2 separate regions of the Homo sapiens genome follow, and region 2 is linked to region 1. A link means that fine-mapping ties the variant in region 1 to the expression of a gene that starts in the linked region. Tissue or cell type: whole blood. Region 1 holds a variant in brackets; the other region holds the start of a gene. All regions are shown on one strand. Distances are between the middles of the regions.

What was found. PIP is the estimated chance that this variant, and not a neighbour inherited with it, causes the effect.
Region 2: it holds the start of ARMH3, and the variant in region 1 is fine-mapped to the expression of ARMH3 in whole blood (TOPMed, PIP above 0.99).

The regions. Positions count from the first base shown.
Region 1 is chr10:101,796,728-101,805,052 of GRCh38, reverse strand. OGA (O-GlcNAcase) reads left to right here. Exons shown (of 16, transcript NM_012215.5): 7 at 1,034-1,318; 8 at 4,653-4,811; 9 at 5,598-6,211; 10 at 6,899-7,073. Among named protein-coding and RNA genes, the nearest start is that of NPM3, 17 kb to the right of the region's middle. The variant G/A (reference allele first, on the strand shown) is at 4,477.
Region 2 is chr10:102,053,311-102,058,310 of GRCh38, reverse strand. ARMH3 (armadillo like helical domain containing 3) reads left to right here and starts at 2,138. Exons shown (of 26, transcript NM_024541.3): 1 at 2,138-2,226. RefSeq lists a silencer at 2,049-2,438.

The DNA of each region.
Region 1 (8,325 bases):
AAAAAATTCAGTTAATAAATAATAAAGATTTATAGGGAATTGGGCTAAAAGGTATTGATCCCATCCTTAAGCAGCGTTAGGAAACTCTTCTATTTTATAAAACGAAAAAAATAAAGCTCAGTAAAAGACATGTTGTGTTTTCAAAAGAAAAATTGTGGCTGGGTGCATTGGTTCGTGCCTGTAATCCCAGTGCTGTGGGAGGCTTGAGTTGAGGTAGGAGGATCGCTTGAGGCCAGGAGTTTAAGATTAGCCTGGGCAACATAGCAAGCCCTTATCTGTACAAAAAAATTTTAAATTACTGTGACATGGTGGGGCACACCTGTAGTCCCAGCTACTTGGGAGGCTGAGGTGAGAGGATTGCTTGAGCTCAGGAGCTCAAGGCTGCAGTGAGCCATGATTACTCCATTGCACTTCAGCCTGGGTAACAGAGGAGACCCTGTCTCAGAAAAAGAAACGTTGTTATAAAATGTACATGTAAGGGGCCAGGCGCAGTGGCTCACGCCTGTAATCCCAGCACTTTGGGAGGCCGAGGCAGGCGGATCACAGGGTGAGGAGATCGAGACCATCCTGGCTAACACAGTGAAACCCCATCTCTACTAAAAAATACAAAAAATTAGCCAGGCGTGGTGGAGGGCGCCTGTAGTCCCAGCTACTCAGGAGGCTGAAGCAGGAGAATGGTGTGAATCCAGGAGGCGGAGCTTACAGTGAGCCGAGATCACACCACTGTACTCCAGCCTGGGCGACACAGCGAGACTCTGTCTCAAAAAAAAAAAAAAAAAAGTACACGTAAGGAAAACAATAAAAAGTTATATATGCAGTATATTTTAAAGAACCATGATTCTTTTTTTTAAATATATTTTTTAATTTAAAATAAAAAGATAGGGTCTCGCTGTGTTGCCCAGGCTGGTCCGAACTCCTGGGCTCAAATGATCTGCCCACCTCTGCCTCCCAGAGTGCTGGGATTACAGTTATGAGCCAATGCGTCTAGCCAAGAACCATGATTCTTTTAACGAACGGTTGTCGTTATTTCTAGGTCCCAAAGTTGTTTCTAAAGAAATTCCAGTAGAGTCCATCGAAGAGGTTTCTAAGATTATTAAGAGAGCTCCAGTAATCTGGGATAACATTCATGCTAATGATTATGATCAGAAGAGACTGTTTCTGGGCCCGTACAAAGGAAGATCCACAGAACTCATCCCACGGTTAAAAGGAGTCCTCACTAATCCAAATTGTGAATTTGAAGCCAACTACGTTGCTATCCACACCCTTGCCACCTGGTACAAATCAAACATGAATGGAGTGAGAAAAGATGTAGTGATGAGTAAGTAGCCTGTACTTGATCTTTCACCTTGGGAGGAGAGCTGGGGTTAACTAGAGCCAGTGGAAAGTATGCATTCCTTTGTCATCACAACTTAAACAGTTTTATTTATTTTTTTAAAAACGTATTTTGTTTTACTAAGGAGGAAACAAAACCAAGTGGTTTTATTATGGTATGTTGTTTCATTCTGTTGATGAAGATGTATATGATAGAAGAAAGGTTGAGTGTCTTTGGACAAGTCACTTAACCTCTTTGCCTTAGTTTTTTTTTTTTTGTTTTTTTTTTTTTTAGTATGATTCAGAAGCAGCGTGGTGGCTCGCTTATAATCCCAGGAAATGCACTCCAGCCTGGACAACAGATGAAAATCCTATGAAATAAATAAAAATAAAATATGGTTCAGTCTTTGAAGTCTGAGTACTAGAGGAGACAGTCTTTTAAGTGTTTCCATTATCTCTAGAATCATTCGGATAAAATGTATTTTCAGGCAATTTTATTGAAAAGGATATTTTAGATAACTAGATACTCTTGAGTCACTTAGATCATTTAGATTCAGCTTACATTTATCTTTTATGGAACATACTCTTTTTTTTTTTTTTTGAGATGGAGTTTTGCTCCATCGCCCAGGCTGGAGTGCAGTGGCGCAATCTCAGCTCGCTGCAACCTCTGCTTCCCAGGTTCAAGCGATTCTCCAGCCTCAGCCTCCCGAGTAGCTGGGATTGCAGGCACACCCGGCTTTTTTTTTTTTTTTTTTTTTTTTTTAAAGTAGAGACAGGGTTTCACCATCTTGGCCAGACTGGTCTCGAACTCCTGACCTTAGGTGATCCACCTGCCTCGGCCTCCCAGAGTGCTGGGATTACAGGCATGAGCCACCCTGCCTGGCCGAATGGAATACAGTCTTATTTTAGACATTGGCTTACTAATTTTTAATTTATGAAAAATCTCTAATTAATAGAGTTCTAAGTAAGGTGCTTGATAATTATTTACATTTAAATAATCTGTCATGGGGCAGATGCATGTTCATGGGCACTGAGGGGGCAAAGAATAAAGTAGTTTTTTTTTTTTCTTTTTGAGATGGAGTCTTGCTCTTGTTGCCCAGGCTGGAGTGCAGTGGCGCAATCTCAGCTCCCTGCAACCTCCGCCTCCCAGGTTCAAGTGATTCTCCTGTCTCAGCCTCCCGAGTAGCTGGGATTACAGGCATGCGCCACCATGCCTGGCTAATTTTGTATTTTTAGTAGAGACGGGGTTTCTCCATGTCAGGCTGGTCTTGAACTCCTGACCTCAGGTGATCCGCCCTCCTGGGCTTCCCAAAGTGCTGGGATTACAGGCGTGAGCCATCGCGCCCAGCCATTCCTACTTTTGAGAAACAGTCTAGTGTTGGGTAAGGCTTATAGGCAATTGTACTATAGTGTGATAAGTGTTGTAATAGTTTAATTTATAAAGTGCTGTGTGAACACGGGAGAGAGTGATTATTTTTGCTAAGAGATTTCACAGACTTTTAAGCTGGATCAAAGTATGAGGAGAGTTTGCTGGGCGTTAAAGGTTTGTGGGCTGGAGGTTAAAAACACTGAACACTGAAAATTTTTTTTTTTCTTTGAGACAGAGCCTCGCTCTGTTGCCCAGGCTGGAGTGCAGTGGCGCGATCTTGGCTCATTGCAACCTCTGCCTCCCTGGTTCAAGCGAGTCTCTGGCCTCAGCCTCCTGAGTAGCTGGGATTACTGGCGCACACCACCCCATCTGGCTGATTTTTATAGTTTTAGTAGAGACAGGGTTTCACCATGTTGGTCAGGCTGGTCTCGAACTCCTGACCTGGTGATCTGCCTGCCTCTGCCTCCCAGAGTTCTGGGATTACAGGCGTGAGCCACTGTGCCCAGCCTGAACACTGAACTTTTGAAGTTCCCTGAATTTTGGCCCATTTTGGCTACTGAAGTGTCATGATAGTATGTAGTAATATTAATAGTTGTCATCTGTTTCTCAATTCCATACCTCTGCTTTGAATTGTTTATTGAATTAATGTCTCCCTTTTGTTTGGCTCAGTCATTGTCATCCTCCTCCCCTCAATAAAAAACAAATTGGGAATATAATTTAAATGCTGTCAGCGTACATGGCACTTAACTCCTACATCTTTTAAGGCACAGCAAGGAACATACTAAGGGTGGCAGACACTATCCAAACCTGGGACATACGTAGGAAATATTAAGGAAAGCTAAGAATAGAGAGTTTTTAAGTACAAAATCAAAAAATTCAGACTTAATTTTCTCTACCACTATCCTGGCTCAGAGCTTTGTTGCCTTATGTGTGCTAATTTGTGGGTCTCTGTCGATTATCTCTTTTTTTTTTTTTTTTCTGAGACGGAGTCTTGCTCTTGTTGCTCAGGCTGGAGTGCAATGGCCCGATCTCAGCTCACTGCAACCTTTGACACCTGGGTTCAAGCAGTTCTCCTGCCTCAGCCTCCCGAGTAGCTGGGATTACAGGTGCCTGCCACCACGTCTGGCTAATTTTTTGTATTTTTAGTAGAGATGGGGTTTTACCATGTTGGCCAGGCTAGTCTCAAACTGCAGACCTCAGGTGATTTGCCCGCCTCAGCCTCCCAAAGTGCTGAGATTACAGGCATGAGCCACCATGCCTGGCCTCTTCTTTTTCCCTCAGCGCCTTTATTAATGAAGTTACAGTCGGTTGTAGTGGCTCACGCTTGTAATCTCAGCACTTTGGGAGGCCCAGGTGGGCAGATCACAAGGTCGAGTTCGAGACCAGTCTGGCCAACATGGTGAAACCCCATCTTCACGAATAATAGAAAAATTAGCTGGGCATGGTGGCATGCGCCTGTAGTCCCAGCTACTGGGGAGGCTCAGGTGGGAGAATTGCTTGAACCTGTGAGGCGGAGGTTGTAGTGAGCCAAGATCCTGCCACTGCACTCCAGCCTGGGTGATGGGGTGAGACTCCATCTCAAAAAAAAAAAAAAAAAAAAAGAAGTTACAAGGCCCTGAAGGCTATGCAATGTTTTCTTCATACGAAAAGCATGGTACTTTTGACCTTGACTTCCCAACAATTAGTACTCAGTAGACGGTTAAGATTGACTCTTCCACTGATACTAAAATTTATATTTCTTATTTCAATTGAGATTTTACATTTAACATTACGTTTAGGTTACTATCCTATATGAA[G/A]TGGTTTGGTGAAGGGTCTTGCTTTTATTTGAATTTTTATGTTTAAGGTTTGTTCTCATTCTGTTCTTTGTTTCTGTGGTTATACTGTGAAAACTAGTTGCATTTATTCTTCTCACTTGTCAGAAGGCTTTTGTAATCAAAACTATTTTTGTGCTTTTTTATTTTATTTTTTGCAGCTGACAGTGAAGATAGTACTGTGTCCATCCAGATAAAATTAGAAAATGAAGGCAGTGATGAAGATATTGAAACTGATGTACTCTATAGTCCACAGATGGCTCTAAAGCTAGCATTAACAGAATGGTTGCAAGAGTTTGGTGTGCCTCATCAATACAGCAGTGAGTTTGGCCATTCTTTGTTAAGGGGGTTAGATCACATAGTTGAGTCACAAAGTAAAGAACACTGTCTCCCGGGTGTGGTGGCTCACACCTGTAATCTCAGCACTTTGGGAGGCCGAGGCAGGCGGATCACCTGAGGTCAGGAGTTCGAGACCAGCCTGGCCAACATAGTGAAACCTTGTCCCTACTAAAAATACAAAGATTAGCCGGGCGTGGTGGCATGCGCCTGTCGTCCCACCTACTTGGGAGGCTGAGGCAGGACAGTCGCCTCAACCTGGGAGGCAGAGGTTGCAGTGAGCCAAGATTGAGCCACTGTACTCCAGCCTGGGTGACAGAGCGAGACTCTGTCTCAAAAAAAAGAACACTGTCATGTGCCTTACCTTATGCCCACTAAGCAAAGTGAAATTAAATGAAATTGGGGGATCTAGAGAATAAGGATTTTTAAATCTTACTTTTGGTCTTAAATATTAGCTTTTATTTTGATGGAATGCTAATTTCTCTTAAAAACATATTTTTTGAAGTAATTTAAGGGTTTTTAGACACAAATTTTCAAAAGAGAATGTAATAGTAGATGTTGGCATGTTTACCTCCCAACGCCCTTCCATTCCTGCATCCCTAGTAGTATAGAGAAATCTCATTTTTCTTAGAGGTCAAATTAATTTGGATCTAAAATTGAGGTTCCACTTAACAAATATGATAAAGCATCTTTCTGAATCTAATGTGTTCTATCTCTAATTCTGATTATCTGTGTGACCATTTTATTTATACATTTATTTATTTTTGTAGGTAGGCAAGTTGCACACAGTGGAGCTAAAGCAAGTGTAGTTGATGGGACTCCTTTAGTTGCAGCACCCTCTTTAAATGCCACAACCGTAGTAACAACAGTTTATCAGGAGCCCATTATGAGCCAGGGAGCAGCCTTGAGTGGTGAGCCTACTACTCTGACCAAGGAAGAAGAAAAGAAACAGCCTGATGAAGAACCCATGGACATGGTGGTGGAAAAACAAGAAGAAACGGACCACAAGAATGACAATCAAATACTGAGTGAAATTGTTGAAGCGAAAATGGCAGAGGAATTGAAACCAATGGACACTGATAAAGAGAGCATAGCTGAATCAAAATCCCCAGAGATGTCCATGCAAGAAGATTGTATTAGTGACATTGCCCCCATGCAAACTGATGAACAGACAAACAAGGAGCAGTTTGTGCCAGGTCCAAATGAAAAGCCTTTGTACACTGCGGAACCAGTGACCCTGGAGGATTTGCAGTTACTTGCTGATCTATTCTACCTTCCTTACGAGCATGGACCCAAAGGAGCACAGATGTTACGGGAATTTCAATGGCTTCGAGCAAATAGTAGTGTTGTCAGTGTCAATTGCAAAGGAAAAGACTCTGAAAAAGTGAGTATGTTTAATGTACCTGCTGCTGAAGCCTGGGTGGTTCCCCATACTGGTAATGTGGAAAAGGTTCTTAAATGAGTACACTGTAACTGACAGAAAATTGACCATGTTTTAGAATATGTTCTTTAGGCCGGTTATGATGGCTCATGCCTGTAGTCCCAGAACTTTGGGAGGCAGAGGCGGGCAGATCACCTGAGGTCAGGAGTTTGAGATCAGCCTGGCCAACATGGTGAAACCCCATCTGTACTAAAAATACAAAAATTAGCCGGGCATGGTGACGGGCACCTGTAATCCCAGCTACTCAGGAGGCTGAGGCAGGAGAATCGCTTGAAGAACCCGGGAGGCGGAGTTTGCAGTGAGCTGAGATCGTGCCATTGTACTCCAGCCTGGGTGACGAGAGGGAAACTGTCTCAAAAAAAAAAAAAAAAAAAAAGTATGTTCTTTACAGTGGATGTGGACTCTACTAAATCTGGTACCTTCAGTTTCATAGTTTGCCCTTCTAGTTAAGAATGAGGAAAGGTCATTATTTTAGGAATATTTGTCAGTTTGGGGAGACACAAAATGATACTTTAATGGTTAAGATAAATTGCCAGTACCTGACAACATAAGCAGCTTAATGTGTAACTGTGTCTCAGATTATTTTGTTAAGCTTACAGTTTTTTGAGTCTTTTTATTGATCTTCAATAGATTGAAGAATGGCGGTCACGAGCAGCCAAGTTTGAAGAGATGTGTGGACTAGTGATGGGAATGTTCACTCGGCTCTCCAATTGTGCCAACAGGACAATTCTTTATGACATGTACTCCTATGTTTGGGATATCAAGAGTATAATGTCTATGGTGAAGTCTTTTGTACAGTGGTTAGGTAGGTGCACCAGGAATAATCTCTTCTCCTCAAATATATTGTCCCTTTAAAAAAAATTATCCCACAGGGAGAAAAACATTTAGGGAATTGGCACATTTCCAAGTCTCTTCAATTCGTTGCCTAGGTTTCTTTCAAAAATAGGCATTATTGAAGACTTGAGATGCAAGTCTTAGTAAATACATCAAGCACATTAATTTTTCTCCCTTGGGCTAATTCAGCATAAGTATCTTAAAAGTATGTTAGAAAGTACTGACTTTAACTTGCTCTGACTGAATGCTTTCTGGATGGAACCCTGTATACCACTTTTATCTGATTTGGAGATGAGACACTATGAAATGTGACTCCACAAGCTTTCTGCTGCTTGCTGTGTCTTGATAACATTAATGCTATGTTTAACAGAACAATTGCTGAAATGACCTAAAGGGCCTGGCAAGAGGAAGCCATCCTCCCAGCCCTGTGCGCATGCGAGCTTTAGTGTAAGGCTATTCTGGTGCTATTCAGTATTATTTCACGTGGCTTTTTCTTTATCCTTCTACCAAGTATTGGTTTTACCAGGGGATAGAAATTGTAATCCCCTAAACATCTCTGCTACATTAAATGGACTTTTGTATGTCTCCTTTGAACACTGATTTTTTTTTTTTAAATTGTCAAACTTGGTAAAAAGCACCAGCATGGCCAAGTTTCTCTAGGGACTTCATTTCATTTTCAGGTTTTCAATCCAGCTATAAGGAATATGTAATGGACTTATATACAGCACACAGCAGGCAGCAAGGCTGACTGACATGTCATAGTTTTCATAGTAGTCACAAATACTATGATGGGTTTCATGGTCTTGGTTGTGAAATAGATATCTGAAACACCGTGAGCTTAGAATAAAAAGTAGTAGTGAGATTTTCCACTTTCTGCCTGTATACCTTTGAGCTCTTAAATATTTAAAAAAAAAAAAAAAAAGTTTCCCTGTGATACAACTAATTAGCTACTAAAAGTAGAGTCTCAGATTGTTAATTTGAAAATAGATAACTTTTTTTGGATTGCTGTAATAACAGGTAGAAGAGAGTATTTTGACCTCATGTTAAAAGGCTCTGTATAGCTTCGGGCGCGGTTGCTCACCCCTGTAATCCCAGCGCTCTTGGTGGCTGAGGTGGGTGGATCACTTGAGATCAGGAGTTCGAGACCAGCCTGGTGAAAACCAGCATGAGACCAGCATGGTGAAACCCTATCTCTACTAAAAAAATACAAAAATTAGCCAGGC
Region 2 (5,000 bases), 250 kb before region 1:
TATTGTGTACAAGGCAAGGGGGCAGGGTAAGGAGTGTGAGTCATCTCCAATGATAGGTAAGGTTACACAAGTCACGTGTCTGCCGGACAGGGGGCCCTTCCCTATTTGGTAGCCGAAGCAGAGAGAGAGGGGACAGCTTACGTCATTATTTCTTCTGTGCATTTCTCAGAAAGATCAAAGACTTTAATACTTTTACTAGTTCTGCTACTGCTATCTAGGTACAGAGCGGAACAGGAAAGTGAACCAGGAGCGTGACCGCTGAAGCACAGCATCTCGGAGAGGTTTAAGCCTCCGGTTGGCTGCGGGTAGGCCTGGCTGATGTCAGGCTTCCAACAAGAGGTGGTGAAGCAGAGTGTTCTCTAACTTCCTCAGGGAAAGGCCCGTCTGCTAAGTAACAGGTGCCTTCCCAGGCACTGGCGCTATGGCTAGTCCAAGGTCTGCTAAGTAACGGGTGCCTTCTTAGGCACTGGCATTACCGCTAGACCAAGGAGTCCTCTAGTGGCCCTGTCTGGGCGTGACAGAGGGCTCACACTCTTGCCTTCTGGTCACTTCTCACCGTGTCCCTTCAGCTCCTAACTCTGTATGGCCTGGTTTTCCTAAATTATAATTGTAAAATATAAGTTATTAATAAAAGTAATGCTACAAACTAATGATTACTAATATTCATATATAATCACATCTATATTCTATTTCTAATATAGCTATTCTTATTTTAATTATTTTCTTTATTATACTGGAACAGCTTGTGTCTTCGGTCTCTTGACTCGGCACCTGGGTGGCTTGCCGCCCACAGAACTCTTCTCCACTTCTTTTTTGTTTTGAGACGGAGTCTCGCTCTGTCGCCCAGGTTGGAGTGCGATGGCGCGATCTTGGCTCACTGCAACCTTCGCCTCCCAGGTTCAAGCGATTCTCCTGCCTCAGCCTCCCGAGTAGCTGGGATTACAGAGGACTGCCAACACGCCCGGCCATTTTTTGTATTTTTAGTAGAGATGGGGTTTCACCATGTTGGCCAGGCTGGTCTCGAACTCCTGACCTCAGGTGATCCACCCGCCTTTGCCTTCCAAAGTGTTGGGATTACAGGTGTGAGCCACCGCGCCTGGCTTATTTTATTTTTTTTACTTGTTTTTTCTTTTTAATAGTATTCTTGCTGTTATAGCACATCTTTTTAAACCTTCCATTTGTGTATAAAAAAACAGAGACTCAGGCTGGGTGCGGTGGCTCACGCCTGTAATCCCAGCATTTTGGGAGGCAGAGGCGGGTGGATCACCTGAGGCCAGGAGCTTGAGACCAGCCTGGCAACATGGTGAAACCTTGTCTCTACTAAAAAATACAAAAATTAGCCGGGCGTGGTGGTACACTCCTGTAATCCCAGCTACTGGGGAGGCTGAGGCAGGAGACTCTCTTGAACCCGGGAGGCAGAGGTTGCAGTGAGCCGAGATCGCACCACTGCACTCCAGCCTGGGCAATAGAGTGAGACACCATCTCGAAAAAAAAAAAAAAAAAGAAAACAAAGACTCAGAGGCAGGGAGTGGTGGCACGTGCCTGTAATCCCAGCTACCAGAGGCAGAGGCAGGAGGACTGCTTGAGCCTAGGAGGTGGAGGCTGCACTGAGCTGTAATTGTGCCACTGCGGCACTCCAGCCTGGGCAAGGGCAAGATCCTGTCTCAAAAAAAAAAAAAAGGAAAAGAAAAGAAAATAGATTTCTGGCCAAGTTAATAGAGCTTTACACGCTACTTTGCACTTATCAGGCACACACGTATTTGTTGAAAGAATGAGTTTGTTTTCAATCTTTCACGTACAAAGTTGTAATACACATTTGGAAAATATATCTTTCCAAACTTCGCCAGTATTTCTAGAGGATACATGTATTCCTAGAAGTAAAATTGCTGAGGTCAAAGAGTCGGCCATGTTTCGGAAAACTGCTATTGCGACCCAGTAGGCCCTCAATAGACAAGTCCACTGCGAATTTATTTCTCGCGATGCCTTTCGGGAGTTGTAGTCTTTGCGATGCTTGCTGGGAATCGTGGTCTGAGCCGGTCTCAGGAAGCGGGCGTGGACTAACCCATTGCGCGCCGGGCTTTAGGACCCGGCGGGGCGCGGGGACACGGGAAGGGTCGGGGAGGTCGGGAGCGCGCCCGTGAGCCCGGAGCAGCGGCAGCGTCGGTGGCGTCGAGAGCGAGCGGGCCCGGGAACGGCGCGGGTGGTAGAGGAGGAGCCGCGGGCTCGGTAAGCGGCGGCGGCCAGGCCCGGCCCGGTCCTCGAACCTGACCAACCCTGCGGGTCCTGCCATACTAGGCCTTGGCCCCGAGGCGGTTCTGGGGGCGGGGCCTGCGCTGGCCGCGGGGACGACGAGGACGCGAGGGGAGAGGGAGGGAGGACGGCTGCTGAAGCTGCGTATGCCGGGGAGGGCTGGGCCTGGGGGCGGCCGAGCCTAGAGAGAAACGGCTTCGCTCTTCCAGCGGCCGGTCCCTCGGACCACACGGTCCCGGTCACGTCCCTCTCCCGCATCCCTGCGGGGCCTTCTGGCTTCCGAGGTGCTGACCTTTGACCCCGCCAGCTGCCCCGAGAGCTTCCTCTCCTGCTGTTCTTGGTCCTGGGGTGCGGGCGTAGGGCAAGGCACCTCTGAGAATCTCAGGGATAGAGGAAAGCGGGTTTGTGCGAAGTCTTCAGGTGTCCCGGAAGGGCTCCAGTCCTGTCCCTCTCCAGGCTCTGACAGGCTTTAACCCACTCTTCACACGGAATCAGTGAAGCTACTGTGTTTTCTTTGGGTTACTCGGCGAGAGCCCAGGAAAGGAACCTGTTCCCAGGAGGGTATAGGGAAGGAAAAAGTAGAGAGAAACCTGGTCCCCTGGAGAAGGAGAAGCTGAGGCGTGCTGCCCCTGGCGAATGGGGAAGCAGAAACTTGGGCCATACCCAAATGTATGTCACTGGATCATCCGACCCTCCGCAGTTCTTCCTCTCCAGAAAGTTTTTTATTTTATTTTATTTATTTATTTATTTATTTATTTATTTTGAGATGGAGTTTCGCTGTTGTCGCCCAGTCTGGAGTGCAGTTGCCCGATCTCGGCTTACCACAACCTCTGCCTCCGGGGTTCAAGCGATTCTCCTGCCTCAGCCTTGCGCTACCACGCCCAGCTAATTTTATATTTTTGATAGAGACGGGATTTCTCCATGTTGGTCAGGCTGGTCTCGAACTCCCAACCTCAGGTGATCCGCCCGCCTCGGCCTCCCAAAGTGCTGTGATTAAAGGCGTGAGCCACCGCGCCCGGCCTTTTTTTTTTTGTTTGTTTGTTTGTTTTGTTTTTTGTTTTTTTGAGACGGAGTTTCGCTCTCGTTGCCCAGGCTGGAGTGCAATGGCGTGATCTCGGCTCACTGCAACCTCCGCCTTCCAGGTTCGAGCGATTCTTCCCCGTCAGCCCCCCAAGCAGCTGGGATTACAGACGTGAGCTACCACGCCCGGCTAATTTTTGTATTTTTAGTAGAGACAGGGTTTCGCCATGTTGGCCAGGCTGGTCTCAAACTTCTGACCTCAGATGATTCACCCACCTCGATCTCCCAAAGTGTTCGGATTACAGGTGTGAGCCACTGCGCCCGGCCAGAAAAAGTTTTGAGCTTAGTGAGAGCTTTTTCTTTGCTATCCTTTAGTTGCTTTGTAAACTAGGGTAAATATGATTTGTGTCCCTGCCCGTAACTTAGCAGGATTGGAATTATTTTGGGTGTACCTTAAGTTGGATTTGTGTGCACAATAGCTTCTGTGTGAAGACTTTCAGGATATCAGATCACAGTCAAGGGAAAGAGGGATCCCTCTTGTTACGACTGTAAAGGGGGAATACCCATTTCAGTGACTAGAGAAGCCTTTAAGGTGTTTTCATTGGACTTTTAGGTATTACAATTTATTGTTCAACTTTTTTTTTTTTTTTTTGAGACGGAGTCTCGCTCTGTCGCCCAGGCTGGAGTGCAGTGGCATGATCTTGGCTCACTGCAACCTCCGTCTCTCGGGTTCCAGCGATTCTTCTGCCTTAGCCTTCTGAGTAGCTGTGACTACAGGCGCGCACCACCATGCCTGGCTAATTTTTGTGTTTTTAGTAATGACGGAGTTTCACCATATTGGCCAGGCTGGTCTCCAACTCCTGACCTCGTGATCCACCCGTCTCAGCCTCCCAAAGTGCTGGGATTACAGGAGTGAGTCACTGCCCCCAGCCGACTTGTTCAACATTTGGATAATTAAAACAAGGTGAAAACCTCAAAGCAGTCATTATGAAATTTGGAATCTCACACTGAGCACAGTTTAGGAATCTGTAACATTTGGGGAAAATGGCCAAAAATTGATCCAGGATATATAAGGGTGAACTGTTTATTCAACACATTTATTGAGCACTTACTATGTAACTTTGGGAGGCGGAGGCCGGCGGATCACAAGGTCAGGAGATCAAGACCATCCTGGCTAACATGGTGAAACCCCGTCTCTACTAAAAATACAAAAAATTAGCCGGGTGTGGTGGCGGGCGCCTGTAGTGCCAGCTACTAGGAGGCTGAGGCAGGAGAATGGCATGAACCCAGGAGGCGGAGCTTGCAGTGAGCCGGGATGGTGCCACTGCACTCCAGCCTGGGCGACAGAGCGAGACTCCCTCTCAAAAAAAAAAAAAAAAATTTATACAGTGTAATGGGAATACTGCCATTGCTTGGGAGAGTCAGGGAAATCTTTGCAGGGGGGAGATACTTGAGTTGGGTGTTGAAGGATGAGTAGGAGATTGCACAAGTAAGAAAAGGCATTTTTACTCGGCCTGGTGGCTTATACCTGTAATCCTAGCACTTTGGGAGGCCTAGGCAGGTAGATTGCCTGAGCCCAGGAGTTTGAGACGAGCTGGCTCAACATGGCGAGACCCCATCTCTGAAAAAGAAAAGGCATTTCATTTGGAGAGAACAGTACTTGCAAAGGCTTGGTGAGGATGTGAGAGGAAAAAAAATTATTTTAAATCTCAGAAATTTGTCCCAAACAG